Linked DNA regions of Homo sapiens. The protein of the gene in region 6 interacts with the protein of the main gene of each other region in a biochemical or structural test. Each region holds a gene or a part of one and is shown on either strand. Other genes may lie near its edges.

Evidence for each region.
Region 1: the proteins of WBP2 (region 6) and WWTR1 form a complex in vitro, tested with the Homo sapiens proteins (one study listed by IntAct).
Region 2: the proteins of WBP2 (region 6) and HOMER3 form a complex in vitro, tested with the Homo sapiens proteins (one study listed by BioGRID).
Region 3: the proteins of WBP2 (region 6) and COPE form a complex in vitro, tested with the Homo sapiens proteins (one study listed by BioGRID).
Region 4: the proteins of WBP2 (region 6) and DDX17 form a complex in vitro, tested with the Homo sapiens proteins (one study listed by BioGRID).
Region 5: the proteins of WBP2 (region 6) and GRPEL1 form a complex in vitro, tested with the Homo sapiens proteins (one study listed by BioGRID).
Region 7: the proteins of WBP2 (region 6) and WWOX form a complex in vitro, tested with the Homo sapiens proteins (one study listed by BioGRID).

What each region holds. Positions count from the first base shown.
Region 1 is NC_000003.12:149,535,614-149,540,091, forward strand, and holds part of WWTR1 (WW domain-containing transcription regulator protein 1), read right to left. Parts: intron 1-4,478. UniProt on the Homo sapiens protein: Transcriptional coactivator which acts as a downstream regulatory target in the Hippo signaling pathway that plays a pivotal role in organ size control and tumor suppression by restricting proliferation and promoting apoptosis.
Region 2 is NC_000019.10:18,934,602-18,939,079, reverse strand, and holds part of HOMER3 (homer protein homolog 3), read left to right. Parts: exon of another isoform or gene 1-30; 5' UTR 31-97; coding exon 98-111; intron 112-195; coding exon 196-352; intron 353-595; coding exon 596-727; intron 728-4,478. UniProt on the Homo sapiens protein: Postsynaptic density scaffolding protein. Binds and cross-links cytoplasmic regions of GRM1, GRM5, ITPR1, DNM3, RYR1, RYR2, SHANK1 and SHANK3.
Region 3 is NC_000019.10:18,898,607-18,902,958, reverse strand, and holds the end of COPE (coatomer subunit epsilon), read left to right. Parts: intron 1-2,509; coding exon 2,510-2,578; intron 2,579-3,011; coding exon 3,012-3,086; intron 3,087-3,232; coding exon 3,233-3,280; 3' UTR 3,281-3,445; downstream 3,446-4,352. UniProt on the Homo sapiens protein: The coatomer is a cytosolic protein complex that binds to dilysine motifs and reversibly associates with Golgi non-clathrin-coated vesicles, which further mediate biosynthetic protein transport from the ER, via the Golgi up to the trans Golgi network.
Region 4 is NC_000022.11:38,488,985-38,493,462, reverse strand, and holds part of DDX17 (probable ATP-dependent RNA helicase DDX17 isoform 1 precursor), read left to right. Parts: intron 1-1,347; coding exon 1,348-1,407; intron 1,408-4,478. UniProt on the Homo sapiens protein: As an RNA helicase, unwinds RNA and alters RNA structures through ATP binding and hydrolysis.
Region 5 is NC_000004.12:7,065,265-7,069,256, reverse strand, and holds the start of GRPEL1 (grpE protein homolog 1, mitochondrial precursor), read left to right. Parts: upstream 1-1,192; 5' UTR 1,193-1,224; coding exon 1,225-1,286; intron 1,287-2,630; exon of another isoform or gene 2,631-3,077; intron 3,078-3,992. UniProt on the Homo sapiens protein: Essential component of the PAM complex, a complex required for the translocation of transit peptide-containing proteins from the inner membrane into the mitochondrial matrix in an ATP-dependent manner.
Region 6 is NC_000017.11:75,848,291-75,852,768, forward strand, and holds part of WBP2 (WW domain-binding protein 2), read right to left. Parts: intron 3,387-4,478; coding exon 3,278-3,386; intron 1,450-3,277; coding exon 1,314-1,449; intron 373-1,313; coding exon 280-372; intron 1-279. UniProt on the Homo sapiens protein: Acts as a transcriptional coactivator of estrogen and progesterone receptors (ESR1 and PGR) upon hormone activation. In presence of estrogen, binds to ESR1-responsive promoters. Synergizes with YAP1 to enhance PGR activity.
Region 7 is NC_000016.10:79,210,392-79,213,626, forward strand, and holds the end of WWOX (WW domain-containing oxidoreductase), read left to right. Parts: exon of another isoform or gene 1-1,216; coding exon 1,217-1,405; 3' UTR 1,406-2,276; downstream 2,277-3,235. UniProt on the Homo sapiens protein: Putative oxidoreductase. Acts as a tumor suppressor and plays a role in apoptosis. Required for normal bone development. May function synergistically with p53/TP53 to control genotoxic stress-induced cell death.

The DNA.
Region 1 (4,478 bases), on a different chromosome or scaffold from region 6:
AAAGCAAATTTGTATTATTCCACAACTGGTTTCTGTTGTCCTTTCAAATCACATTAAAGAAAACATTATAATTTAGATACTCGTCTGTCTTCACTTAAAAAAAAAAAAAAAGGCTGAGGCCTGGTGCAGTGGCTCACACCTGTAATCCCAGCACTTTGGGAGGCCAGGGTGGGCAGATCACTTGAGGCCAGGAGTTCGAGACCAGCCTGGCCAACATGGCAAAACCCCGTCTCTACTAAAACACAAAAAATTAGCCAGGCGTGATGATGCGCACCTGTAATCCCAGCTACTCAGGAGGCTGAGGCATGAGAATCACTTGAACCTGGGAGGTGAAGGTTGCAGTGAGCCAAGATTGTGCCACAGCACTCCAGCCTAGGTGATGAAGTGAGACTGTGTCTCAAAAAGAGAAGAAAAAGAAAAAAAAAGACTTGAATTGATACTATTGTTCAACAACAAGGGCACACTGGGACATTTTGGAAAATGGATTATTTCTGGGACATGTAAGCAAATAAAACGCTTGACACAAGCTAGAATGGAAGCTCTGTGAGGGAAGGGGCTGGGGTCTGTTGTTCACAGCTGTACTTTTAATGCCTAGAGCATTTGTAAAACAAATATATGAACGAATGAACTTAAATAGCCAAGCTTATATGGAGGGATTTATAGATTCACAAAATATTAGACTACGTGACCTCTGTTAACCCAGTCAACTCTGAAACCTAATGCTATGAAATGCTTTTCTAAAAGTTAAATAGTCCCCTGTTCTGAAGCAAAGGCTATGAAATAGCCTACATTTATGCTTCATGATCTGCTCCAATACGACACTCTCCTAGCTCGCTAAATAGCTATTCTTTGCATGACAAAAAAAAAAAGGGGGGGGCCTCAGAACCTTCCCCAGGCCAGTGCTGCTCACAGCCAGGTGTGTCCCCCTCCAGGAGCCCTCTGTCAGGATGGCTGTGCGAGGTCAGCCAGCTGGCCCGCCGCGCCTGGTGGCTGTCAAGCCTGGCAGAAATCCCACAGACCTGCCAAAAGAATTCCGAGGCCTCCCTCTTTTCTCGTCCCTGTTGCCCCGGCGACCCGAGGCCAGGCTTAGTCAGCATTTTTGTTTGACAAACTGCATTCTCCTGTCCCCCAACCCCCAAATTAAAAAAAAAAAAAAAAAGAAAGAAAAGGTTGAGGGTAAAAGCAGGGCTGAATTTGCTTTGGGAATAATGATTTCTCTACAAGGCAGCCCCCGTGAAGGGACAAGGGGGAGCCAAGGCTTTGCCACTTACTCGTCTTCCAGGTCCTGGTCCTCGAGGTTAAAATCTTCCAGAAAGATGGCCCCAAACCGTTATATTTAAATGAATAACACACATGAAAAGAAATACTCTCTTCAGGTAAAGCCATATGCCTGTTTTCATGTCAAGGAATTGTTCTTTTAGATAAACAGGCATTGAGAAGCCTGTTTCTCAATGTCTGACCTGTGACTACGATTTCCCACTTCATTTGGTAAAGTTGCAATTGTGCCTTTTAGGATACTGAGCAAATATTGCGTTGAATTTTTCAGTTGTAACAACAGAATACTCTGTAGTCATTGTGGGTGTGTGTGGCTCATGACATTTAAAAATTTATGTACGGCCTGTTGTAGAAAGGATTCTAGGCGCTTTGGAATGGGTACATACAAAGTCACAGCACAACTTCATGGCTGACACAGAATAAAAAAATGACTTCCCAATATATTAAGAAGAGGCAACAAAGCAGTATTAAAGTATGCTACCACTTTTGTGTTTTAAAAAACAAAGTAGACACATTGATACACATGATACATACAAAAAGACTAGAAAGAAATCATCAGCATATTTACAGCCACTCTTTCTAGGTAAGAGTATAGGTGATTATAATTTCCTTCTTTGTTGTTTAGTATTTTATACATTCCGTACCATAAACATACGTTTTGTCTTTTTGTGTGTAGCAATTCGTTTTCTTTTATTATTCTTTTTGTTTACATACAGTAAAATTCACTCTTTGTGGTATACATGTCTGAGTTTTGACAAATGTAGAGCTGTGAAATAGCCACCACAACCAAGACACGGAACTGTGCCATCTGCCCCACAATTCCTCAGTGCTGCCCCTTTGGAGTCTACTCTTTCTGTACTGTCAACCCTGGCAAGTGCTCATCTCTTCTCTGTCCCCATAGTTTTGCTTTTCCAGAACGTCACATAAATGGAATCATACAGGATGTAGTTTTGGGGGGAAGTCTGGTTTCTTGCACTTAGCAAAAACACTTTTTTAAATGCTAATCACTAAAGTAACTCAGTAAATTATATTTTTAATTTTTTTTTTTTGAGACAGAGTCTCACTCTGTTGCCCAGGCTGGAGTGCAGTGGCTCGATCTCAGCTCACTGCAACCTCCACCTCCCAGGTCCAAGAGATTCTCCTGCCTCAGCCTCCTGAGTAGCTGAGACTACCGGCACCCGCCATTATGTCTGGCTAATTTTTGTATTTTTACTAGAGACAGGGTTTCACCATGTCGGCCAGGCTGGTCTCGAACTCCTGACCTCAAGTGATCTGCCCGCCTTGGCTTCCCGAAGTGCTGGGATTACACGCGTCAGCCACCACGCTTAGTCAAAAATTAAAATTTTTTTCTACTTAAAAAAACTCAACAAATCAAATTTTAATTTCCTTAAAAAAATGAAGAGAAAGCAAAACTTCAATAAGAATTGCTTTTTTTTTCTAGAGTTGCCATTTCTTTGGTGAACCTGAAGTAGCCTCACAGCCTTTGGGAAATTCAGTAAAAATAAAAGAAAACTCTATCACAGACAAAAGACTTCCTTTCACAGAAATGCACTCTTTATGTCTTCCATGTTAGATTCCTGGTACCCCTCCACTTGAAGTGTCTGCCGCATTCCAAGATAATTCATCAATTATCAGATACAAGTAGCTCAGCTCTGTTGCTACACCAGCCAATGCTAGATTGGAGGGACTGCATTTAAGGAAATTCTCCTGCTTCAGAAGATTCCTTATCAGCAGAGATACCAAACCTTACTGGCTCTTTTGATCCTAATTCTGTAGCCAGTAACCTGAGGGGTCACTGGAAAGAAAAAGGAGTATCTGATGCTCACTTTCACAGAACTCTGCTCAGGTGCATCTGGTCTCAGTTCCAGTAATGAAAGTCAAAGATGGTAGCCACTGGGCCCCTGTGAAGCAGGGAATGGTTTTAATTTACTCTTCTGGTCTTTAACTTGGATTAAAGTTAATTATTTTTCCTTTTCTGCAAAAATACAAGTTATCTGAAGGCAGTCACATCCCATTTACCTGTCTGTTATTTTCTACTAAATAAATATTGATTGAATGAATGAAGAGATAAAGGAATGAAGGAAGGAAAAAAAATATGAGCTTCCATACTGAAATAATGAAGGCTCACTTTAGATTTGTAATCAAAGTTTCCTCAGATCCATTTTGTTAATGTTCTCGCATGATTTCAATGCCAATGAGTTAATAGGTGACCCTTTGGCATTGTGGTATACATCAAATCATGCAACAAGGACCAAGGAGTTGTTTTTTTCATGGCACAACATCATCAAACTATATGCCTAGTGGAACAACGGCATAGCAGAAGGAACAGGAAGAAAAATGAAACAATATTTATATAGCATATTCTCCACAGGGATCTTTCAGATTCGTCGTATCATTCAAGAATGATAAAACTATAGACAGCGTGATAATTTATTAGTAATTAGGGGATAAATTCATCTACTTATTAAATTTTGCCAACCTCCCTTTCTACTACAGAAAGAGAGCATAGCCTGGGGCCTTGCTCCCAGACAGGCTCAGTTGGTAGAAGGGCAGGTAGGTCTAGGCCTACCTGCAGGGCCTGGGCCCCAAGAAGACAGGCTGTACAATTAAGGCCGCCTACAAGCAAGAGGAGAGCCAGTGTAATTACAAACTGTCCACTGAGCAAGGGATATTCAGGCAGTTGTTGACTACCCAGGACATAGGGGTAGGACAGAGAGAACAAACAGAAGTGTACAGATAATCTTTAAATTTCACCAGAACCACCACTTCCCCCATCTCTCCAAATTCCTACCAGATGCTGGAAGGCAACTAAACAAGTGAGCCAAAGATCACTTTTAATTCCAGTCCATTTCCCTGCTGCTGCCATGGCTTAGGTTCAAAAAGTGAAGCAGAAAATCACCAAAAGAGTTCAAAAAATCCACCAAGATGAAACACAGAGCCCACACCTGAATACTGAATAATCAGGTGTCCTGGCAAATGCCCCAGAAAACTATTATAGAACACTCCAATGCCATTTATTATATGGTCTTAAATCATATCTTTGACAATCAGGAGCATGCTGCTTCTGCATGGGGAAAAAATCTGCCATGATTAAAAAGTCTATTTAGACCTTTTCCTGTACTCCCTAACAAAAATAAAAAGGCATCAGAACACCAGAACCAACCACTCCACCATTCCATCTCCTCCTAACTACACACACACAC
Region 2 (4,478 bases), on a different chromosome or scaffold from region 6:
GGACACTCATAGTCCCTCCTCTCTCCCTAGGGGCCAAACCAGTGCTCCTGCCACCTCTCTGGCTGCCCCCTAGAGCCTGCCCATCCCAGCCTGACCAATGTCCACAGCCAGGTGAGCTCCCACCTCCCCCAGCCTGGCCCTGAGCTTTCTAAGTGGGGGTGCCTGGCCCCCACCAAACACCCTCTCCCCACGCAGGGAGCAGCCAATCTTCAGCACACGGGCGCACGTGTTCCAAATTGACCCAGCCACCAAGCGAAACTGGATCCCAGCGGGCAAGCACGCACTCACTGTCTCCTATTTCTACGATGCCACCCGCAATGTGTACCGCATCATCAGCATCGGAGGCGCCAAGGTCAGGGTGGGGTCTGGGTGGGGCAGAGGCACCAGGAGTCCTGGTGACAACCTTGGGTCTGGTGGCTGGCTTGCTGTGTGCCCAAGGGACAGGAAACCCTAAGCCTTCCCAGGCCCTAGTCTCTATCTCCTGAAAGGGTTCAGAGTAAAGACCTTCAAGACCCTAATACAAGGTAATACCTGGGGGGTTTCATGTTTGTTAGTATCTGTCCCATCTACCTTGAACTTTGTTCCCCGACCCTAGGCCATCATCAACAGCACTGTCACTCCCAACATGACCTTCACCAAAACTTCCCAGAAGTTCGGGCAGTGGGCCGACAGTCGCGCCAACACAGTCTACGGCCTGGGCTTTGCCTCTGAACAGCATCTGACACAGGTGGGCCGGGTGAGGGGGAGAGTGGAGGGAACCGATGAGACTGGGCCCAAGTCTTCTCCTGGGCTCACTCTGGGATCTTGGGCAGGTCCCCTATCTTCCCATCTGCAGGATGGGATTGTAGGATGAGTTGAGACTGAAGCCCCTTTAAGCTTCCCCGGTTTGATTCCTAGTTCATTTTTCTGTTTTTTTTTTGAGATAGGCTGCAGTGATCTTGGCTCACGCAACCTCCGCCTCCCGGGTTCAAGCGATTCTCCTGCCTCAGCCTCCTGAGTAGCTGGGACTACAGGAGTCCGCCACCACGCCCAGCTAATTTTTTGTATTTTATTAGAGACAGGGTTTCACCATGTTGGCCAGGCTGGTCTCGAACTCCTGACCTGAAATGATCTGCCTGCCTCGGCCTCCCAAAGTGCTGCAATTACAGGCATGAGCCACTGTACCTGCTCTTGAGTCCTAGTTCTACTGCCTGTAGCTCTAATTTTGGACACACCCTGCTCCTCTTTGGGACATCAAATGGGTGGCTGGGCTGGGCTGGGCACTTTCCCACATGCCCCAGCAATACCTTCATCCTCACCTCCCTGCACCCTGTGCCGTCTCTATACTTCCATTATTATCTTTATCCGTGGTTTTGTTGATGATGAGTGCTTTCACGAAGATCTTCTTCTTTTTTTTTTTTTTTTTTTGGAGATAATGCCTTGCTCTGTCCCCCAGGCTGGAGTGCAGTGGCACGATCTCGGCTCACTGCAACCTCCACCTCCCGGGTTCAAGCGATTCTCCTGCCTCAGCCTCTGGAGTAGCTGGGATTACAGGTGCCCACCACCTCGCCCAGCTAATTTTTGTATTTTTAGTGGAGATGGGATTTTGTTGGCCAGGGTGGTCTTGAACTCCTGACCTCAGATGATCCACCTGCCTCGGCCTCCCAAAGTGCTGGGATTACAGGCATGAGCTACCACACCAGGCTTTCTTTGTTTTCTTCTAGAAGGTTTAGAATTTACCTTTCTTCTTTTTTTTTCCCTCCCTCCCTCCCTTCTTTTTTTTTTTTTTTTTAACAAGATCTTGCTCTGCTGTCCAGGCTGGAGTGAAGCAGTGCAATCATGGCTCACTGCAGCCTCAAACTCCTGGGCACAAGGGATCCTCCCACCTCAGCCTCCTGACTAGCTGAGACTATAGGCGTATGCCACCATGCCTAGCTAATATCTTTAATCTTATTTTTTTTAGAGATAGGATCTCACTATGTTGTCCAGGCTGTTCTTGACTCCTGGCCTCAAGCGAGCCTCTCACTTTGGCCTCCTAAAGTGCTGGGATTACAGGCTTGAGCCACTGCACCCAGACAATTTACTTTTTTTTTTTTTTTTGAGACGGAGTCTCGCTCTGTCGCACAGGCTGGAGTGCAGTGGCGCGATCTTGGCTCACTGCAAGCTCTGCCTCCCAGGTTCACACCATTCTTCTGATTCTTCTGCCTCAGCCTCCCTAGTAGCTGGGACTACAGGCGCCTGCCACCACGCCCTGCTAATTTTTTTTGTATTTTTAATAGAGACGGGGGTTTCACCGTGTTAGCCAGGATGGTCTCGATCTCCTGACCTCGTGATCCACCCACCTTGGCCTCCCAAAGTGCTGGGATTACAGGTGTGAGCCACCGCGCCCGGCCCCAACAATTTACCTTTCTAATTTAGGTCTTTTTTTTTTTTTTGGAGACAGAGTCTAGCTCTGTTGCCAGGCTGGAGTGCAGTGGCCCGATCTCGGCTCACTGCAACCTCTTCTCTCCAGGTTCAAGCAATTCTCCTGCCTCAGCTTCCCAAGTAGTTGGGATTACAGACACACCACACCTGGCTAATTTTTGTATTTTTACAAAATTTTTGTTTTTTTAATTTTTGTATTCTTAGCAGAGACAGGGTTTCACTATGTTGGCCAGGCTGGTCTCAAACTCCTGACTTCAGGTAATCCGCCTGCCTCAGGCTCCCAAAGTGATGGGATTACAGGTGTGAGCCACTGCACCCAGCCTAAAAAATCATTTATTTATTTATTTATTTATTTATTTTTTTGAGACAGAGTTTCACTCTTGTCCCCCAGGCTGGAGTGCAATGGTGCGATCTCGGCTCACCGCAACTTCCGCCTCCCCGGTTCAAGCAATTCTCCTTCCTCAGCCTCCCAAGTAGCTGGGATTACAGTCATGTGCCACCATGCCTGGCTGATTTTGTATTTTTAGTAGACATGGGGTTTCACCATGTTGGTCAGCCTGCTCTTGAACTCCTGACCTCATGATCCACCTGCCTCGGCCTCCCAAAGTGCTGGGATTACAAGCGTGAGCCACCACACATGGCCTTATCTATTTATTTTGAGACAGAGTTTTGCTCTGTCACCCAGGCTGGAGTGCAATGGCACAATCTCAGCTCACTGCAACCTCCACCTCCTGGGCTCAAGCAATTCTCCTGCCTCAGCCTCCCAAGTACTAGGATTACAGGCGCCCACCACCATGCCTGGCTAATTTTTGTGTTTTTAGTAGAGATGGGGTTTCACCATGTTGGCCAGGCTGGTTTCGAACTCCTGACCTCAAATGATCCGCCCGCCTTGGTCTCCCAAAGTGCTGGGATTACAGGTGTGAGCCACCGCACCCGGCCTAAAAAATTATTTTTAAACTAAGGAAATTTATTTTAAAACCGGGGTGGTGGGGGGAAACATATCCTATCCTAACTGGAAAACTGGTATTGCTTTGTCATAAATAGGTGGTAAATGTAAACATGTAAACATTTAATACAACAAAAACAAGAATGAGATGATTACTTTCTCATTGACTTCTGATGTCTCTCAGAGCCTGAGACCTAATCTCTTTGTTATAAAGGAATAATAACAGGTGTTAAAGACAGATTAGCACCCACCTGAGGCTCTCTTTGTTGAAATAGCCCTGATAAAGATTAAAAGGGACCCCACATGTTGGCTCATACCTGTCATTCTCACACTTTGGGAGGCCGAGGTGGGTGGATCACGGGGTCAGGAGTTCGAGACCAGCATGGCCAATATGGTGAAACCCCATCTGTACTAAATACAAAAATTAGCTGGGCGTGGTGGCACGGGCCTGTAGTCCTAGCTACTCGGGAGGTTGAGGCAGAAGACTCGCTTGAACCTGGGAGGCAGAGGTTGCAGTGAGCTGAGATGGTGCCACTGCACTCCAGCCAGGGTGACAAAGCGAGATTCTGTCCCCCCCCAAAAAAAAAAAAAAAAAAGGCTGGGTGCTGTGCCTGTAATCCCACCACTTTGGGAGGCTGAGGCAGGCGGATCACTTCAAGCCGGGAATTTAAGATCAGCCTGGCCAACATGGTAAAACCACATCTCTACTAAAAATATGAAAATTAGCCAGGCATGCTGGTGCATGCCTGTAATCCCAGCTACTCATGAGGCTGAAGCAGAGGCTGCCGTGAGCCAAGATCATGTCACTGCACTCCAGCCTGGGCAACAGAGCAAGACTCCATCTCAAAAAAAAAAAAAACAAAAAACAGGAAAAGGGCCATTCTGGGGAACATGGCTAGACCCCGTCTCTAGAAAAAATTAGCCGGGCATGATGGCACACACCTGTAGTCCCAGCTCCTTGGTGGAGGGGTAAGGTGGAAGGGTCACTTGAGCCAGGGAGGTCAAGGCTGCAGTGAGCCGAGATCATGCCACTGTACTGCAGCCTGGGTGACAAAGTGAGACCCTTTCCTAAAAAGAGGACATGGGAATTCCTTTCCCTTTCTCAATGTGGCCCAATGTATTTAAATGC
Region 3 (4,352 bases), on a different chromosome or scaffold from region 6:
TCAGTATTGGAGAGACACTCCCCGTACTTATGTAGGGGAGAGTGTGCTGTGGACAGGAGCTCTTCGTTGAGAGAGCGCTGCCTGCCCAGGGTGGCTGCAGTCATCTCCTGCCTGATGTCTGCAGTCTTTTCTTCCTTCCTTCCTTCCTTCCTTCCTTCCTTCCTTCCTTCCTTCCTTCCTTCCTTCTTTCCCTTCCTTCCTTCCTTCCTTTCCTTCCTTTCCTTCCTTTCCTTCCTTTCCTTTCCTTCCTTTCCTTCCTTTCCTTCCTTTCCTTTCTTCTTTTTTTTTTTTTTTGAGATGGAGTCTCACTCTGTCACCCAGGCTGCAGTGCAGTGGTGTGATCTCAGCTCAATGCAACCTCCGCCTCCTGGGTTCAAGTGATTCTTTTGCCTCAGCCTCCCAAGTAGCTGGGATTACAGGCGGCTGCCACCACGCCTGGCTAATTTTTGTATTTTTAGTAGAGACGGGGTTTTGCCATGTTGGTCAGGCTGGTCTCAAACTCCTGACCTCAGGTGATCCACCCGCCTCAGCCTCCCAAAGTGCTGGGATTATAGGCGTGAGCCACCACGCCTGGCCATCTGCAGTCTTTATGAAGAGTTTATGTTATGTTAAATTAAAAATATATATATATTTTGTAAAGACGGGGTTGTTCTTGCTGTGTTGCCCAGGTTGGTCTCGAACTCCTGGCCTCAAGTGATCGTCCCACCTCAGCCTCCCAAAGCATTAGGATTATAGGTGTGAGCCACCATGCTTGGTGGATTTTTTTTTTTTTTTTTTTTGAGATGGAGTCTTGCTCTGTCGCCCAGGCTGGAGTGCAGTGGTGTGATCTCGGCTCACTGCAAGCTCTGCCTCCTGGGTTCATGCCATTCTCCTGCCTCAGCCTCCCGAGTAGCTGGGACTACAGGCGCCCACCACCATGCCCAGCTAATTTTTTGTATTTTTAGTAGAGATGGGGTTTTGCTGTGTTAGCCAGGATGGTCTCAATCTCCTGACCTCATGATGCTGCCCACCTTGGACTCCCAAAGTACTGGATTACAGGCGTGAGCCACTGTGCCCAGCCTGGATTATTATTTTTATAATCAGAAAGGACATCAAAGCTTTTTCCATTTTGGAGAAACGAATTTTGGGGGGTTTTTTGTTTGTTTTTTGAAACGGTATGCCACCATGCGTGGCTAATTTTTGTATTTTTTGTTAGAAATGGGGTCTCACTGTGTTGTCCAGGTTAGTCTTGAACTCCTGGGCTCAAACAATTCTCACCCTCCTTGGCCTTCTAAAGTGCTGGGATGATAGACATGCGCCAGTGCGCCCAGCTGAGAAACAGTTTTAATCTAGTGACAAACACTGGTGAAGCCCTCCTCCCTGTCTGACTTTCCAGGGGCTGAGTTATCATCAGAAAGTTGTTTGCAGAGCGGGGCTGGCCAAGGGGTATCAGGCTGGCCCCATCACAGGCCGGGTACTGCTCCTCCTGAGCAGGGTCCATCTTTAGCTCTGAGCAGTCAGGGCTAGTCAGGAACTCCCAGCCTGATGTGCAATCTCAGACAGGCTGTGTGTCCCTCGCTGCCCCAGGGGCAAGACTGGCGCCCTCCTCCACCACCCTGCCCCTCCCTGCCACCTGAGAACACTTGGATGCATGTTGTGTTCATGGCCGCATCCTCTGGGGGCTTTTGTTACACCTCTCAGGTGACACGTTCCGTGACTCACCAGTTAGATGACTCCCTTCTGTCCTTGTCTCTTGAAACACCACCTGGGGCTGGCTGGCCGTGCCCCTTGGCCCTGGTGGCCTCCCCGTGGCTGTGGTCACCCTGCATTCTTGCTGGGTTTTGGGAGGCACTCAGGTCCCCCCACTTCCCTTTGGAGCCACCTCATGGCTGCTCCTGTGAGCGCAAGCTGGTGTCCCCCTTCATGGTGGAGACTGAGGCTCAGAAAAGTCCGGTCTGCAAAAAGGTGCCCTGCCATGGGCCGCCGTGGGCAGGTCGGGCTCTGGGCGCATCCTCGTTGGTGTGTCTGTGCTCCAAGCAGACACCAGGGCTCTGGCTGGGTCTCCTGGCCTAGATGTTTCCTAGGGTCCTGTGTGCTGGGAGCCTAGAGTGAGTGAGTCAGGCAAGGTCCCCTGCCGAGGTCTCCTTCAAGGCTCCTTGGGAGCTGGTGCAGGGGTGGCAGGTCTGCCCATGGCCTCGGGGTTCGTTGTACAGCAGGAGTTGAGGCCATCTGGGTCTGGGCCCCATGGCTTTGAGATGTGTGGGACAAATACAACCTTCCCAAGTCTCTGTAAACAAGGGGTCGTACCCCAGGCTGGACTACAGATGGGGAAACTGAGGCTCAGCGAGGCGGCTGGCCCCTTGGCACCGTATCATCTGAGATCTCCACCTTGCAGAGCGGTGGGCGGTGTCAGTCCCACCCCACCTCTGAGGAGGTGACCTTGTGTGGTGCTGCCTGAGGTGGGGGTGACGGGCAGGCATGGGGGCTGGAGTGGCTGACCCTGCCTCCCCGTGTCTGCCTGTGTCTCCAGGATAGTGGCTACCCAGAGACGCTGGTCAACCTCATCGTCCTGTCCCAGCACCTGGGCAAGCCCCCTGAGGTAAGCGGCCCCCAGGGCTCCAGGCCAACCCTAATGTCCAGACCCTGGGACCCCAGCCTGGGGTCCAGGCCCTAATCCCTAGGCCCCTGGGAAAACTCTGTATACAGTATGCCTACCGCAGCCCACCTCCCTCACAAACCCTGTGCCCCCCAACCCATCCTCACCTGGGGCCCTGCCCGACCTGCTCCCCTGAACACCACAATACATCCCCCACCATGTACGGAGGCCAGCTCCATGCCAGCGCCTCTCCAGGGGGCAGGCCCATCCCTCCACCCCCACCCTGAAGGTTCTCCGAGATCAGCCCAGTCCCAAGGCAGGGTGAGGAGCCCCCTGGGGTACTGTGGCTCTCACCCCAATCCACCCCTGTCCAGCAGGTCAGAGCCACCGTGGGGTCCCCGTGTTCGGCTCACCTGCCTCCCTGCCTCCCCTGCAGGTGACAAACCGATACCTGTCCCAGCTGAAGGATGCCCACAGGTCCCATCCCTTCATCAAGGAGTACCAGGCCAAGGTGAGTGGTGGGGATGGCCTGTCCCCGAGAACCAGGCCAGGGGGCGCCTGGAGCTCAGCCTGGGCTCACATGCGCCCTCTCTCTCTCCCTCCACCTGTCTCCCCACACCCTGCCCCCACCCTGTGTTGCCATGTGTCTTGCTAAAGGAGAACGACTTTGACAGGCTGGTGCTACAGTACGCTCCCAGCGCCTGAGGCTGGCCCAGAGCTGTCAGGACCATGAAGCCAGGACAGAGGCCAGGAGCCAGCCCTGCAGCCCTCCCCACCCGGCATCCACCTGCATCCCCTCTGGGGGCAGGAGCCCACCCCCAGCACCCCCATCTGTTAATAAATATCTCAACTCCAGGGTGTTCCACCTGATGATGTGCTCTGGTCACTTTGCTGGGGGCGTGTGGGAGCTGACGCTCAGGGAGAGTCCTGGGGCACTGGCATCCAGGGCTGTTCCTGGAGACCAGGGTCTGTGACGAGCAGCAGGTGTGCAGACCCCCACCCCGCCCCTCACACAGCCACAACCTGCTCCTGCAGGCCAGAGGCAGCACAGCCCTGTCCCCATGCTTCACCCTGGCCCCTAGAGGCCACTGAGCAGCCCTGGTTGGCATCGGGGGAAACTGAGGCACAGAGAAGTCATGCCGCTATCATGAGGGGCACCAAGATTCAAAATGAGAACCCCTAGTGGCCTGGAGGAAGTGGGGGCCAGGGCAGGAAAAACTCAGGCCTCAGCTCAGCAAAGCCGGAGGGGCCCTGCAGGGTCAGCGTTAACCCCAGGTGCTGCTCCTGCCGCCCCGCAAACCCTCCTCCAAGGCAGAGTCCTGCTGTGGCAGGGTCCTGGGGCCAAGCACCCAGCCGCGATGAGAGGCGGCCGCACCATTTAGGGAGGGAGGTGGGTGGGTGGCAGCAGGGCTGGCCGGAGCCTCCCAGATGTCACCATTGAGCTGTGCCCACCCGAACAACAAAAAGGAGCTGCCAGGCTAGGTTCTAGGGGGACAGGCACCCTGGCAGTGGGCATGACCGGTGCAGAGGTCCCTCGGTGGCACAGGGCTGTGAGGTCAAGGGGCGCTGGATGGGGATGCATGCCCTTTGACCTCTGAGCCTGGCCTGGGCTTATCTCCCAGGGAAAAGATAAGACTGGGTTTCCCCAAGCCACACCCAGGCCTATTCATTTGAAACCAGACCCCGTCTCTGGTTGCCAGGGCAGGACAGCAAGCGACCCCCACCCCCAGCCTGGTAGGGGAGGGAAGTGGCAAAAGAGGACTCCCTGGACAGGGAC
Region 4 (4,478 bases), on a different chromosome or scaffold from region 6:
ATAATCCTAACACTTTGGGAGGCTGAGGCGCGTGGATCACCTAGGCCCAGGAGTTCAAGACCGGTCTGGGCAACATAGTGAAATCCTGTCTCTAAAAGAAAAACAAAACAAAACAAAACTTAGCCAAGCTTGGTGGTGCACGCCTGTAACCCCAGCGACTCCGGAGATTGAGGTGGGAGGATTGCTTGAGTCTAGGAGACAGGTTGGAGTGAGCCAAGATCGTGCCACTCCAGCCTGGGTGACAGGGTGGGACCCTGTCTCAAAGAGATAAACGTGGCTATGTTCAGACAATATTTATTTGCAAAAATAGGCGTTGTGCCAGATTTGGCCCAAAGGCCAGTTTGTCTTACCCCTGTTGTATAGTTGATTGAATTACTGAGGGTACTTTTAGCGTGTGCTCATGGTTCTTTAAGGGCCACGATGCTGGCTCTTTAAACTTTTTCACAACTTTCACCACCCTCCCTTTATTAATAAAGTCTTCAATTTTTTCCTTCTGATTATAAAAATATAACTACCGTTTGGGGAGAATTAAACTGTTACTGAAATATTTAAAGAAAAATGTTTCTTAATGAGTCATATTTTAGCATATTTCCTTTCAGTCCTTTTTTTCAGGACTACTCTTAAGGGAAGCCATTGAGAAATGGAAGAGGCCATATTTTGTTTAAGAAATAAAATGTGGCCGGACACAGTGGCTCACGCCTGTAATCCCAGCACTTTGGGAGGCTGAGGTGGGCGGATCACCTGAGGTTGGGAGTTCGAGACCAGCCTGACCAACATGGAGAAACCCCGTCTCTACTAAAAATACAAAATTAGCCGGGCATGGTGGCATATGCCTGTAATCCCAGCTATTTGGGAGACTGAGGCAGGAGAATCGCTTGAACCCGGGAGGTGGAGGTTGCGGTGAGCTGAGATTGCGCCACTGCACTCCAGCCTCGGCAATAAGAGCGAAACTCCATCTCAAAAAAAAGAAAGAAAAATAAATAATATGCATACCTTTTGGGGGGAAATTCAGTTCTTTTCATTCTACATCTTTTGAACTTGTTTCCTACTGACCCCCAACTTTTGGTTGTGTCTCATTTGGGAAATAACTTTAAGGGGAAAAAAATCTAGCTCATATTAATTATGTAACAAATTGCCACACTCTCTTAACGGTATTTCATTATTAGTAGAGGTAACTATTGTGCTGCTGAATATGAGTGTAATAAAGATTTTCAAAAGAATCACTGTCAGTCATTACAAGAGCTTGGGATTTTCTGGCACCATTATTTGAAATTTTAACATGGTTATGTAAACAGATCAGATAGCAAGGAATGCTTATTTGATGATGATTATTGTTTGTTTTTACAGAGTTCCGTTCTGGAAAGGCACCCATCCTTATTGCTACAGATGTAGCCTCCCGTGGGCTAGGTTTGTATAGATAGGTGTCTCTGTCAATGGTATATGTATCTTTTGGTTTAAAGATTCGTCATTTCAAATTCAGACTTCAAGTTTAGAAAGTTGTATATACATGTGGTTAGATAAATATTTGAAAGAAAAAAATACAAAGCGTGATTCTCCCCATTCCCTGCCCCCCCCACAATTTTTTTTAACTTTGGTTTCCCCCACCCCCCTTTTATTTTCAAAGTCTCTTCCTGCTCCTAACAAACAGGCTTTGGTCTGCAGCAAGGCCTAGGCATGACTATTCAAACAGAGGGAGAGGAGACAGACAGCTGAATGGCTCAGCTTCTCTCTGGTGGTGGTTTCTGGCTGGATAGAATAAGCCTGACGAAACCTAGCTATTGTAAGCTAGTTTCTTCAGTTATTCTTTTCCCTATCCCTGTCTAAGCTAGATATATACAGAGAGGTCCAGTTTTATGAATGCTTATTAGATGGAATTTTATAAGTCTAATGCAGTATCAGAATAGCAAATATGTGTATTGCCCAGTTTAATTTACTGAGGTCAAATTATCATGGGCACTTGGCTATCCCCTCCTACCCATGCACTTATCTGTAGGTGTGTTATCAACTGATGATTTTCTGGAGTTTTTGACCCATTACCATTTAAGATATACAGAGAATTTTATGGTAGTTTAGCCCACTATTCTGAGCTAAACAGGTCTAACTCAGAACTTCTATATTTTAAAAAAAAAGATTATTTGTATTACAAGGAAATCCTTAAATTATTGACAGGTATTTAATTTGCCCAGTAAGGTGAGAAGTACCATATTATTCCCTTATACTATATAATATAAAGAGAACAGGTATTCAAACTGGAATACAAAAGTAATGAAGCCTTTTTATGCATTGCACTCATCATTCCCTCCTTCAGAGGTGGTGACCTGCAGCCATGATGGAAAGTTCTCTCTGCCCCTCTGCCCTCTGAGGTCATGTCTGGATCTGTGCCATTAGAACTTGGGCCTGTTGGGAGAGGAGGCGGAGGCCTGAAAGCAGTTTACATAAAGCTTTCAGTAATGGTTGGTTTTTAAACAGGCTTGCTATGTGCTGGTAGCTTCTTTGTGCATCTTGCCTAGACAATTAAAAATATTTGCTCCATGTCCCCTTGCATTTCTAAACCAAATTAATTGGCTACCATTAGAATAACTTAGACTCTTCATCCCACCCCCACTCATCCAAGTGAGGGGAGAGGGAAGGTACCCGAGTCTGTTTCTTGTTACTCAACATCAGTGCTTGTTTTGGGCCCCTTTGTTTGCTGCCTTGTAAAAAATCAAAAGAGGGAGAAAACCCACCAAAATGGCAGAATTCTGACCAATGTCCTACAAGATCCTGGAAAGTGAAGGCTTCTACCTCATAGACAGGGGTGCAATTTTCAGCTGAGTCACCAGGGCCTTTTTTCACTTCCTGTCAAGCGATGGTCTCTTAAATGTTCCCTTCAGGTAAGTTCTTTGATTCCCATAATTTTATAATAGTCATCCTTAGGCTACCACTTCCCTTTCCACTGGGATATTTTTTATTTTTCCTTTTTTTTGTTTGAACTACACACTGTTAAACTAAAAGTATTGAATTTATTTTGTTTTGTTTTTTAACAGAAGCTTTGATATCAGCTGCAGATCACTCAATACATGGCCGAGACAAATCTACATTGGCCGGAAGCAGCTCTAGATGAGCCTCTTGGCTAGACTTAGTCCCTCCTTATTAGTGATTGGCGATTCAGGCCATGTCATAGGGCCTTTCAGACAAAAGGTTCTTATCCCAGTCAGCTGGCCAAAACATTAACTTTGGATTTCTTACCCTGCTACAGCATCTTCTAGAAAGGCAGCAAGATAATATTGTGGCAGTGCACAGATAACATCAGGGTAGACTTGACTGGAGAAAACCAAATTCTGCGCTTGCTCCTGTGTGCCCCCATCCAGCTGTGCATGCACACACAGGACACCTTTCTAGTATGAAGAACTTGCATCATGTCTGCCCTCTATTGAGCACCCCCTTCTAGAAATACTTCCAAGTATTAGCATGTGAACTGTTGACTCCACCCTGGTGCTTTCTGCTAGGAAAGCACACTTAACGCATCCAGTGTAGTAATTGAACTTGTTCTACTGCCATGGTCATATGCAGTGGGATTGCATAAGGAGCATTATCCTAGCTCTGAAGATACCATGGAGTAGAATTCCCCACCCCCTGTCTTACATCCACCCTGGCCCTGTAAATTCTTTTTTCCTTTGTTGCGTCAACGACCCTAGCCGGAGACTCAAGCTGCCCCCTGTGATAAGTGCCTTCTCGTCTTTCTGGTGTGATTCAGGACTTTAGGGGTCAGTAAAGACCGAGGAGCCTTTATTGTAATAAGAAACAGACATAATGCCCCTTCTTCACAAGCCCTGTAACAACAGCTAATTTTTTTTTTTTAATCTCCCCTTTCTCCCTTGAAATTAATCCAGTCTGGGCAATAGATGCAGTCTGACCCTTTGGATGTAACTTACATTTTTTTTTATTAATTATTTTTTTCTACAATCACCCCAATTATCCTTGGGGGAGGCGTTGGAGGACCTGAAATTTTTACCCGAACCCAGGTTCTCCGGCGCTTGGCAACCAAATGGGGCTACAGAGAAGCATCTAAGCCAGTTCACAGAGCGAGCGTGTGTGGGGACTTCTCACTGCCACGGACCCTTGATGCATGCTCCCCGCGCTCCAGTGGTCCCGTGTCAGAAGGCGGAGTTTTCGAAAGGAGGCCGCCAAAAATAAAAGGCAAAGAGACGGGATCGGCTGCAGCGGTTTCCCAAAGGAGGAGGGAGTGTGCATCGGTCTGGTAACAAACAGAGAATGTTTTTTAATTATTTATATCACAAAAATCTGTGTTTTATCTAGGATATTTTCTGAATATTCTTTGTAAAATGCAGATTTTTTTCCACAAAACAGTAGGATTCTTTGTTATATTCTTAAAATTGTTTGTTTAAGTAGGTAAAAATATACATTCAGCTGAAAGCATTACACTAACATTTACATTTTAAGCCTTAGGAGGTTATTCAGCCCAATTCCCAGCAGTA
Region 5 (3,992 bases), on a different chromosome or scaffold from region 6:
TAACAAGCAGGCAAAACTCCGCTTGAGAAGCCACCAGCTCGCGCCCTGGGATCCTGGGGAGGGCATGGGCTCCAGCCCTGGGATCCCGGGGAGGGCACAGGATCGAGCCCTGGGATCCCGGGGAGGGCAGGGACTCTAAGTCTGGGATCCTGGTGAGGGCACGGGCTACAGCCCTCAGATCTTGGCCGCCAGAACTGCACTCCAGGCCACGCGGTGCTGAAGCGGGAGCCAGGCCCTATCTCCTGCGGGAACCCCGCTTGGGGGCCGGCACCGGGGCCATAAGAACACGCGGCCCTCTGTTCTTGGGGGTATGCGCTACAGCAGCATGGACCTCGGTCAGGTTATGAAAACGTGTGCATTTATGAGCTTTAGTTGTGCCCCAATGTTTTCTATGCGCTGTTCTTAGTCTGTTTTTCGTGTTTTGAGAAAACTGAAGATAACAGAAAGGTACAAAACACACGCCCATATTCCCATCATCCAGCATCAAAACCGCCAACATTTCGTCCCATTTGTTTCCCGGGTTTTGTTTCCTGTTTCACCAGAAATCACTGGTGGAGACGGAGACCCCAGTGCCTTCTCTCCGCCTCGGGCGCCTGGAGAAGCAGCTTCGGGGTCGGGGCGCCCTCCCAAGCGGTTGCCTCCGCGGTTCTCAAGCAACTACGCCGCCGTTTGGGTGGCGCTCGCGCCGAGACTTCATTTTCATTTAGCAAACATGGAGTGCTCCGCGCCGCTCTGGAGCCGGGGTGTGAGGGTGAACAGGGCTCCCCACGCTCGTTCCCAGAGCAAAGGAAGGCCCGCGGTGTCAGCGCAAGGGCGGGTGCGGGCCGGGAAACGACAAGCTGCCGCCTCACTCCTACCCAAAACCAGGCTCTGAAGTCCCTCCCGGCCCGCGACGCGCGCGCCCCACCCCGGCGCTGGCCCCGCCCCCTCACGCTGCCTCCTCATTGGCTCCTCCCGGCATCGCCACGCCCACAGGAGGCTCCTCCCAATGCTCACTTCACCTTTCACCTCTTCAGGGCCTCCGGTACGCCTCAGGCCCCGCCCACCGGGGGGTGGGGAAAGATGCTCTTCCGTGACCCACAATTATTGGTGACTATTGCCTGTCCATAACAGGAAAAGCGATTACGGATTGGCTGAGGCGAAGTAGTAGGGCAGAAAAGTGGGTATAGCTGCCTGCACGCACGCTTGGTGCGTGCGCGGCGACTGCGACGGGCAGTGGCAGTCATGGCGGCTCAGTGCGTGAGGTTGGCGCGGCGCAGTCTTCCTGCTTTGGCGTTGTCTCTCAGGTAAGGGGCACTTGGTCTCCCTGGGTGGAGGTGGCAGCGCGACCTCCCGCTCCGATGGGGGCCTTTCCCGGCCCCGGGGCCTCCTTCCCGGCCTCGGCCCCGGAGCTGGGCATCTCCGGGCTCGCGGTTCCCCGCCGCGGGACGCGGACCGCCCCGCTGGGGCCTGCTCTGCTGCCAGGCTGCCAGCTCAGGGCTTGGGAAGCGTGGAGCGGGCGGGCGCCGTGTCAGGAGGAGAGGACCGCAGCGCGGGGGGCGTTTGGCTCGGAAGGTACGGTGGCCCACGTGCGCGTGTGGTCCAGGGCCTGCGGCGACGCCTCGCGCGCATTCACGGTCTCGGCGCTCACGGGCGCAGAGGCAGCCGCAACTTGTGCGGTTGAAGAAGCGACCAAAGAAGCTCGAGCTTTGTCCAAGGTCACGCAGCGAGGCCGAGCCGGGCCGGGTGTGCCCTGGGCAGGAGCTGTGGTTACTCATTTCCGTGCCGCAGCTCGAGGCCGGGGCCACAGCGGTGCTCGGGAAACTTCGTGTCGCAAGGTGCGTGTTGCCCGTTCACGGGCTTTTTCCACTCGACCTCGAATTCCTTCACTCCGCCTTCTCCAGCGTCTGAGGTCAAAAGAGCAGTCGAACCTGTGCTGCTGCTGGGCGAAGAGTTTGTTTAGACAAGGGCACATTTCGGGCCTGAGGGCCACGAGACAGTGCCCCTTTTTTTTTTTCCCCTCAAATCTGCCCCTTCTGCTTTTTGAAAGTTCTACTTTAGAAGTTAGTATGGCAAGTACTTGCTGGAGGAAGTGCCTAGAACCAAGTTATTGATTAGAGAAGCCACTGAGGGCCAAATTGGCCAAAAGCTGGGCAGTGAGATGTAGTTCTTTCCTGAAGGAGAGCAGGCAGGTGAGGTGAAGATCACTTTCAGTCTAGGTGATTAAGGGGTAAGTGCTAGCTTAATAAATTATATCTTAACAACACAGGAGCCAAGAGCAACGACCCACGTGGAATACTTGAGTAAAAAGACTTTGGTCAAGTAATTGGTGGTTTTGTATTGGAATTAATTGCCAGGAAAGTGACCACCAAGTCAGCATCATTTCTGTCTCTAGAATGGTAGTTTTGTGGAAAGATGCTCAACTAGGGAAAGGCAGGAGAACTGACTGGTAGTCATAGCTCTCAGAGTAACTAGGCTTTCTGAGACTCAGTTTCCCTCTGCAGAACGAGATGGCCCCGGGTGTGGGTCCTGTTGCACATTCCTGGCCACACTTTGTGTTGGCTGTGCTTCGGAAAGGGGTCTGTGAAGAGCTGACCTGCAGAAAGGCTGGTGGCTGTCACACCCCCAGGCAGAACAACTGGAGAGGAAGGTGGGCTTCACAACAGTACACTCAGTTTTTATTTAAATTCTTAGCTTTTTAAATTCACAAGAGTAAAAATATAAAATGGTCATCGCTCTCCACCCCCATGGCAAGACTGTAATGGAGGCTTCCACTCCACTTCTTTCCACAGATCTAAGATATTAATAAGTACACAGGATTTCTAGTTTGTCTTTACAAAAATAGGATCCTGTTTTGTGTATTTCTCTGTAAGTTGCATTTCTTAACAGAACATCCAAAGTGTATCCAATAAATGGCAGTTTAACTCATTTTTAGGAGCTGCATAATATTCCAGATTGTGTTAGCAAGTTTATTCAACCATTTGCTCGCTGACAAACATTGTTTCCAACTTGTCGCTCGCAGTGCTGCAATAAACAGCCTTGACTGAGTTCTGTGTGCTGGCAGCCTTCACCTTCCTATTCGTTGAAGCAGTTTTAATCTGGGAAGAAAATTGAATGTAGCTTATTCTCAGATAGGACTGTGGCCTAATTTAAAAAGAGGTCCTGGCCGGGTGCGGGCGGATCACGAGGTCAGGAGATCCTAGACCATCCTGGCTAACACAGTGAAACCCCGTCTCTACTAAAAAAATACAAAAAAATTAGCCGAGCGTGTTGGTGGACGCCTATAGTCCCAGCTACTCGGCAGGCTGAGGCAGGAGAATGGCGTGAACCCGGGCGGCGGAGCTTGCAGTGAGCCGAGATGGCACCACTGCACTCCAGCCTGGGTGACAGAGCAAGACTCCGTCTCAAAAAAAAAAAAAAAGAGGTCCTCTGGTCCTGGTGAAGAAATCTAGGTTTTAAGACTTTATTTTATCATTCGTTGATGGCTTTGTGACCTGGGCTTATCACTTGGTCTTGGTCTATTTCACCGGTACATATCCCATGCTTTCCTGTCTTCATGCCTTTGTCCAAGCAGTTTCATCTTCCTGAAGCTGCATCTATCCCATTGTCCCACCTCTGATCCCTTTTTCGTAACTCTTACCTATCCTACAAAGCCTTTCATGGTTTTCCATTCCCCAAGCTAGGTATCTCCTTCTACTCTGAGCCTCCCAAAGCACAAAGCACTTAGTTCCCTTTTTTTTTTTAATCACTTTTTTTTTTTTTTGAGACAGAGTTTCCCTCTTGTCGCCCAGGCTGGAGTGCAGTGGCGCGATCTCAGCTCACCTCAACCTGCGCCTCCCTGATTCAAGCGATTTTCCTGCCTCAGCCTCCCAAGTAGCTGGGATTACAGGCATGCACCACCACGCCAGGCTAATTTTGTATTTTTAGAAGAGACGGGGTTTCTCCATGTTGGTCAGGCTGGTCCCGAACTCCTGATCTCAAGTGATCCACCTGCTTTGGCCTCCCTAAGTGCT
Region 6 (4,478 bases):
TGTTTGTTTTATGAGGCCATAGTAAAGTGTCCTTGAGTCCAAACAGCTTTGTCAAAACGTCATCCACCTGCCCCAGGCAGGGAAACGCAGTCTCTGAGGTACAGGACAGAGCTGATGCCAATGACAGCTTTCCTTCCCAACTCCTAGGCCTGGTCAGCCTGGTGCCCAAACACTTACCTCTTGAGTTCTTGAAAAAGCAAAACGAAAAGGAAGCAAACTCATACCAAACCCCTACATGTTTAGTGTGTCTTTAGCCCCTAATCTTCGGAGCCTGGATACCTTGAGATGCCACCTGGAGCATCCGCTGTCCGAACTCAATGGCGCCCCCTGCCGTGAAAGTCAACTTGTAGGAAGCAGAGCCTTCCCAGCCACCTGAAAGGGGAAGGACAGTGAATAAACAGCACAGGAAAAGAAAACTTATGCCCAAAGAGATGGCTGTTTTCCTCTCCAGGACTTCATCCAACGCCCGGGAGGCCTGCGGGGGCTGGGCCTGCACTGTGATGGGGACTTCCTGGTGCCATGGTTTCCAGCCTGCTGCCTGCATAGGAGCCAGCACTGCAGCCTGGCCTGGCCCTGCTGTACTCGCTTCCCCCTTTGGAACAATGGCCTCTCCTTCCTGGAACAAGCCTGTCCTCCCACCCTTGGCCCAATATGTACACGGGTGCCAAGGCCACATCAAGGTTTCTCTCCGCCCCCAGTCAAGCACTCGGCAGCTTCACAGGAACAAGCCCACTCAGCAACAGCCGACCTTAAAATTCAGAGCAGACCTCTCGTCCTAAGGGGGCCCAAGGACAGACTCCGGCCCCTCTAGCCTGGCTTCTGCCCAAAGGGGGACCAAGAGTGTCTCAATAGCAAGGGCGGGCCTGGCTGGGTGTCAAGGGGAAGGCAAGTTCAATGCAGAGGTCTCTGGGGCCTGCCAAAAAGCCAGCCCCAAAGCAGGGTGACTCTGGCTTCCCAGAGGCAGCTGCCTCTTCCTGGCTCTCATGAAAAGGCCCCTCTCAAGAACCTGATGCAGCTCCTTCCTGAGTCTAAAATTTGTATGCGCTCGCCAAGTTGCACTAAGCATCTTGACTCAGTCCGCAGGCTTCTGCAGACTTCACGCTCTGAAAAGCTGATCTGAGCTGCTGTCTTTCATGCCAGCATTTTCCCCACCTCTTGGCAATCAAACCCCACCAGCTGGCAGCCCAGAGCTGGGAAGAGGTCATGGCTAGGGCGATAAGGGTCTGAAGGGGACGCCCCCACGGCGGCAGTCAGAGGTTCCCAGGACACCTCCCTGCAGGCCCCATGCGTGTCCCTGAGTTCCCATCACCTACCTCCCGCTTCCGCCTTCACTGTTCCCTTGATGTAGTTTGCACCAAATACGGGCTGCTTGATCTCACAGTCTTTCATGAGATAAAATGGCATCATGAAGGACTGCATGGCATCCTTGCCCTTGGACAGAAAGATGACCTGCAGGGAGAGAGGGTGAGGCCATCAGTACTAGAAGCACAGCCCACGCTGCCATGCTTCCCGCCTGCTTCCTGGGAGTGACGAATCCTCTCCCAGTGCCAGGGTCCAGCAGCCCCATGGCTCTCTCTGTGCCAGACACTCCTGGAGAGAGCTTTGGAAAGGGAAAGGGCTCACCGCAGCCTGGAGAGGCCAAGCTCACGCACACGGGAGAAAAACGTGCTGGTCACAGATAGTATCTATGAGCAGGGCAGACTGCTTTGTCACTGACGTGGTGGGGTGGTGGCAGTGTTGCCTAAGTGAAGGGGCCTACGAAGCTAGGGAAGGACAGGCAGAGGCAAGGCAGGGATGGGTTCCTGAAAGAGGGGGGTCTCCAGCCTGAACTCTCCAGAACTGAGAATGATGGTGCAGTAGGTCGCTAGCTCCCATTGAGGGGGGCTATAAACAGCAACAAGAGCTCTCCTGGAGCCTGTGCCTGGAGAAACCCTTGGGTTTTATTTTTTCTTTTCTTTTCTTTTTTTTTTTTTGAGATGGAGTCTTACTCTGTTGCCTGGGCTGGAGTGCAGTGGCGCGATCTTGGCTCGCTGCAAGCTCCGCCTCCCGGGTTCACGCCATTCTCCTGCCTCAGCCTCCTGAGTAGCTGGGACTACAGGTGCCCGCCACCATGCCCGGCTAATTTTTTGTAGTTTTAGGAGAGATGGGGTTTCACCGTGTTAGCCAGGATGGTCTCGATCTCCTGACCTCATGATCCGCCCGCCTCGGCCTCCCAAAGTGCTGGGATTACAGGCATGAGCCACCGCACCCGGCCCCAGCCAGGGTTTTAAACCCACGACTTTTATCTGTGACTGAAGGTGCCAAGTTGAGCCTCCAGAGATGGGGTTTTGAGACTCTCCTGTCTTTGTGAAGTCATGGAGATTAAAACTTGAAAATGTGCTCCTCTTCTTCCAGCTGTCTTTGAGTCTAAGTCTTTTTTTTTTAGGCAGGGTCTCACTCTGTTGCCCAGGCTAGAATCCAGTGGCATGATCCCAGCTCACTGCAGCCTCAACCTCTCCAGGCTCCAGTTATTCTCCACCTTACCTCTCGGGTAGCTGAGACTAGAGGCATGTGCCACCACACCCAGCTAATTTTTGTATTTTTTGTAGAGATGGGGTTTTGCCATGTTGCCCAGGCTGGTCTCGAACTCCTGAGTTCAAGTGGCCTGCCTACCTTGGCCTCCCAGAGTGCTGGGATTACAGGCATGAGCCTCCGCACCAGCCTGTCTTTGAGTCTAAATCTTGAGTAGCCACAGGCAGCAATCCTTTTCCAAGAACATCCATTTGTATTTCTCAACCTCTCAGAGTCCACGTGGGTAACTCTCAGGCAGGGCCCATTCTGCAGCCTGGCATTTGTCATTCTGCGGGGTGGTACCGGGCTCTCTGCCCAGTCCGGAGGCCGTGCCATGCAACTGTACCCTGTTTACTGGATTTCTCACTCTGGATACACACAGGGCTTCATGGGCTACTCTCACAGAAAACAAAATATTAATAATAATAGTCTGGCCTCCAGGCCCAAGTCATGCCAGCGGCTGCATCCAACTCTATAGAGATTTTGCAGCAGCGGCTCTGGAATTGACATGGGTTCACTGCCCAGTGGTCAGGTCAGTTACACAAAGAGCCTGGTGATTCTGGAATCCAGGAGCATGTGACAGAGAAACAGGCAGAGTGAAGCACTAACACTCACCAGGATTCAGAGGCCACCTGACTCATGAGGCTGAGGCAGACCTGAGACTAAGACTCACGTCACCTCCAACAGCAACAAGCCTCTCAACCAACTGCCCTGCTGTGCAACTCACCCGGTAAGGGGTAAGGTAGACAGTGCCTTTCTTGGTCCCTTTGAAGGCTTCTGGCACGTTCTTCATGTCATTGAATGTGAGTTCCACGTGATCATAGGACATTAGGATGCTGTGATGAGAAAAGAGGAAAAGCCTCAATGAGACAGTATGGAGACGCGACGTCACCCAGACACTGGGCCTTTCTCCCAAGCAGCTGCCCGGCACGTCAGCTCTCATAACCTCTCAATAGTGCGGCATTAAAACTATTCATAGGGCTGGGCGCGGTGGCTCACGCCCGTAATCCCAGCACTTTGGGAGGCCGAGGCGAGCGGATGACCCCTGGTCAGGAGTTTGAGACCAGCCTGGCCAACATGGTGAAACCCCATCTCTACTAAAAATACAAAAAAATTAGCCAGGCACCGTGGCGGGCACCTGTAATCCCAGCTAGTCAGGAGGCTGAGGCGGGAGAATCGCTTGAACCCAGGAGGCAGAGGTTGCAGTGAGCTGAGATGGCGCCACTGAACTCCAGCCTGGGCAACAAGAGAGAAGCTCTGTCTCAAAAACAAATAAATAAATAAAGCCATTCATAGGGCCAGGCGCAGTGGCCCACACCTGTAATCCCAGCACTTTGGGAGGCTGAGGCGGGTGAATCGCTTGAGCCTAGGAGTTTGAGACCAGCCTGGGCAACATGGTGAGACCTCATCTCTACAAAAAAACTAAAAACCAACAAAAAAACCCATTAATATAGCCATGGAAGAAATGAGCAGGTTGGGGGTTCTGTAAAATTTCCCAAACCCCGCTTATAAAGCCCCCAAATGATCAACATGGTAGCAGAGCTACAGGGCTCTGAAGAGGCCATCATCCCTCAAGCAAGTTAGATAATCTGGCTTAACTCTTCTATTTTCTTTATTTTTTTTTTTTTTTTTTGAGACGGAGTCTCACTCTGTCACCCAGGCTGGCGTGCAGTGGCGTGATCTCGGCTCACTGCAAGCTCCGCCTCCTGGGTTCATGCCATTCTCCTGCCTCAGTCTCCCAAGTAGCTGGGACTACAGGCGCCCGCCACCACGACTGGCTAATTTTTTGTATTTTTAGTAGAGACGGGGTTTCACCGTGTTAGCCAGGATGGTCTCGATCTCCTGACTTCGTGATCCACCTGCCTCGGCCTCCCAAAGTGCAGGGATTACAGGCGTGAGCCACTGCGCCCGGCCAACTCTTCTATTTT
Region 7 (3,235 bases), on a different chromosome or scaffold from region 6:
AACTCCTCCAGTAAGCACCCTGCATGGTCACAATGTAAACCCTGCAGGGGCAGAAAAATGATAAGCTTTGGGTCGGGTCGGAAAGCCATTTCCCCCACAATCAAAGTTCCTTAGTGTTTTCCTTGTGGGGGCGAGCTTATCTTCAGTTACCTTTTCCGGTCCTCTCTTGCAACCCCTCTCCCTCTCATCAGCTGAAAATTAGTGGATGCAGCTAGGGCTCTGAAACACATAAATAATCATAAGATGCCAGATAAACTGTATTGGTTTTAAATTAGAGACGTGCCGACCATGTCTCCCTCTGAACAGCAGCCTATTATTTTTAATTATGGCTTGCAAAGCAAAGTGATTTCTTGCCCTCTTTATAGCATCCCTGACAGTATTCTGTCAGTTTGGATGATATGATGCCTCATCACTGCACACGTCCCTAGCCACAGCCGCAACTGTTACTCAAAAGGTGAATGAAAGTGATCAGCTGCACTCTTTGCAACTTACATTTTGAAGTGGGCTGGGAGGAAATGTACCCCCTTACCTGTGGTCCCATTGTAAATCTGGGTCAAATATGACATTTAGAAAAAGGTTTTCATGGGATCTGGATGAATTAATGTGTTATGTGTTTGTGCTAAGTATGAATGTATGGTGAGGAGTGTGTGTGTGTGTGTGTGTGTGCATTAAATGTTTTAACACAACATTGCCAACCCTTCCCCTAGCAGCACCGTGGGCAAAGCATAAAGGGATGATCTGGCAGCAGCCCCACTTGGGTTTTCTACCTGATGGACCACAATTAAGAGTGGTTGGTTTGTCAGACAGAAGGTTCTACAAACGATTTGGTATCGAATTACATTATACATGGAGAAGTTGAGGGGTTGGATGAATTTGTTCTTGCACGTTCAGAAGGATACCATCTTTTTCTCTGTGTGGAAGAGGCGCCTGCCACGACGTATTGATATGTGTATTTATTTTCCAAGCCTGTCCCTGTATGAGGTGTCAAAAGTTACACCAGCTTTACAAGCGGAGTTTATGAACTCGTTTTTCCAGGATAGTCACATTATACTTTTTACAGTCATGTGCTTTCAGCCCAGTACCCTTTGCTATGCCAAGATCCAGCTGAAACTGAACCAGGTGGGGGAGGCCTGCTAATGCCCAGGCAGTCGAAATGACGCCATCTCATCACTCCTTTTCTTAAAATTTTTTTTTGTCTTTCTTCTTGGATTTCCAGCAACAGGGAGCTGCCACCACCGTGTACTGTGCTGCTGTCCCAGAACTGGAGGGTCTGGGAGGGATGTACTTCAACAACTGCTGCCGCTGCATGCCCTCACCAGAAGCTCAGAGCGAAGAGACGGCCCGGACCCTGTGGGCGCTCAGCGAGAGGCTGATCCAAGAACGGCTTGGCAGCCAGTCCGGCTAAGTGGAGCTCAGAGCGGATGGGCACACACACCCGCCCTGTGTGTGTCCCCTCACGCAAGTGCCAGGGCTGGGCCCCTTCCAAATGTCCCTCCAACACAGATCCGCAAGAGTAAAGGAAATAAGAGCAGTCACAACAGAGTGAAAAATCTTAAGTACCAATGGGAAGCAGGGAATTCCTGGGGTAAAGTATCACTTTTCTGGGGCTGGGCTAGGCATAGGTCTCTTTGCTTTCTGGTGGTGGCCTGTTTGAAAGTAAAAACCTGCTTGGTGTGTAGGTTCCGTATCTCCCTGGAGAAGCACCAGCAATTCTCTTTCTTTTACTGTTATAGAATAGCCTGAGGTCCCCTCGTCCCATCCAGCTACCACCACGGCCACCACTGCAGCCGGGGGCTGGCCTTCTCCTACTTAGGGAAGAAAAAGCAAGTGTTCACTGCTCCTTGCTGCATTGATCCAGGAGATAATTGTTTCATTCATCCTGACCAAGACTGAGCCAGCTTAGCAACTGCTGGGGAGACAAATCTCAGAACCTTGTCCCAGCCAGTGAGGATGACAGTGACACCCAGAGGGAGTAGAATACGCAGAACTACCAGGTGGCAAAGTACTTGTCATAGACTCCTTTGCTAATGCTATGCAAAAAATTCTTTAGAGATTATAACAAATTTTTCAAATCATTCCTTAGATACCTTGAAAGGCAGGAAGGGAAGCGTATATACTTAAGAATACACAGGATATTTTGGGGGGCAGAGAATAAAACGTTAGTTAATCCCTTTGTCTGTCAATCACAGTCTCAGTTCTCTTGCTTTCACATTGTACTTAAACCTCCTGCTGTGCCTCGCATCCTATGCTTAATAAAAGAACATGCTTGAATATCATCACCTGAAGTTTGTATTGTTTCTTTAAATGTTTGTTTCAGTTTGTTTTTGTTTTTCATTTTTTAGAAAAGAAATCTAGAGGAAAAATAAAGCGCTTCTAATAAAGCGCTTCTCGTAGATGCCAGGAAAACACGATTCTTGTTTCTTCTCTGAGTGAGTTTGTGTTTTGTTTTTGTGCTTTGTGGCTGTCCGTGGGCCAAGTTGTCTCACGCGATTAGCATGCCAGCATATTTTCTGTTAAAGAAAGAAAAAAGAAAAATGACTATTGTTTCATTTCACCTTAAGATGTTTTGTTATTACTTACTTACAGTGAGTTATTTTAGTCCTCAATGGTCTGCTCCCCTGCAATTAGCAAGTACTTAGTGATTAGCGGGTATCTCTATGTTTGAGAATGGGAGCTGTGCAGAAGCTCTTATCTGCGCATCCCATCTCATGGACACCATGATTTCCAGCCCGTTCCAGCAAGCACATGAGAAAGTCCACTCTGGCAAGACGGAGAAAATGCTTCTGCTGAAATACCAGGAAGGTGTGGAGGCTGGGTGTCATTGTTCCCCCTCCTGATCATGGCAGCTTCAGGCCAGACAATGTCTTGAACTTCTGTGCCTCTGCATCTGTGGTGCAGAGCAGTCGAACAAACAAACACCATTGCCCTCCAGTGGCCCATAGCCTTGCCACATCCTCCCATCTGGCTATAGTCTTCCTTACGTAATCCTTATTATCACAGGACCTTTGAAACTATGAATCAGATAATGTCACTTTTCAGACATTATTGTCATTTGCAAAAGCAGCCGTCAGAACTCCACTCTCAGAATCTACACCTGGAGGGGATCACCCCTCCCATATGACCTCTGACTTTGGCCATGTGACTGGCCTTGGCCAATTTGGAAAGTGCTTTGCACTGGGGCTTGCCTTTCCTTGTTGATCTTTGGAACCCTGCAACTTCCATCATAGGGAACGGC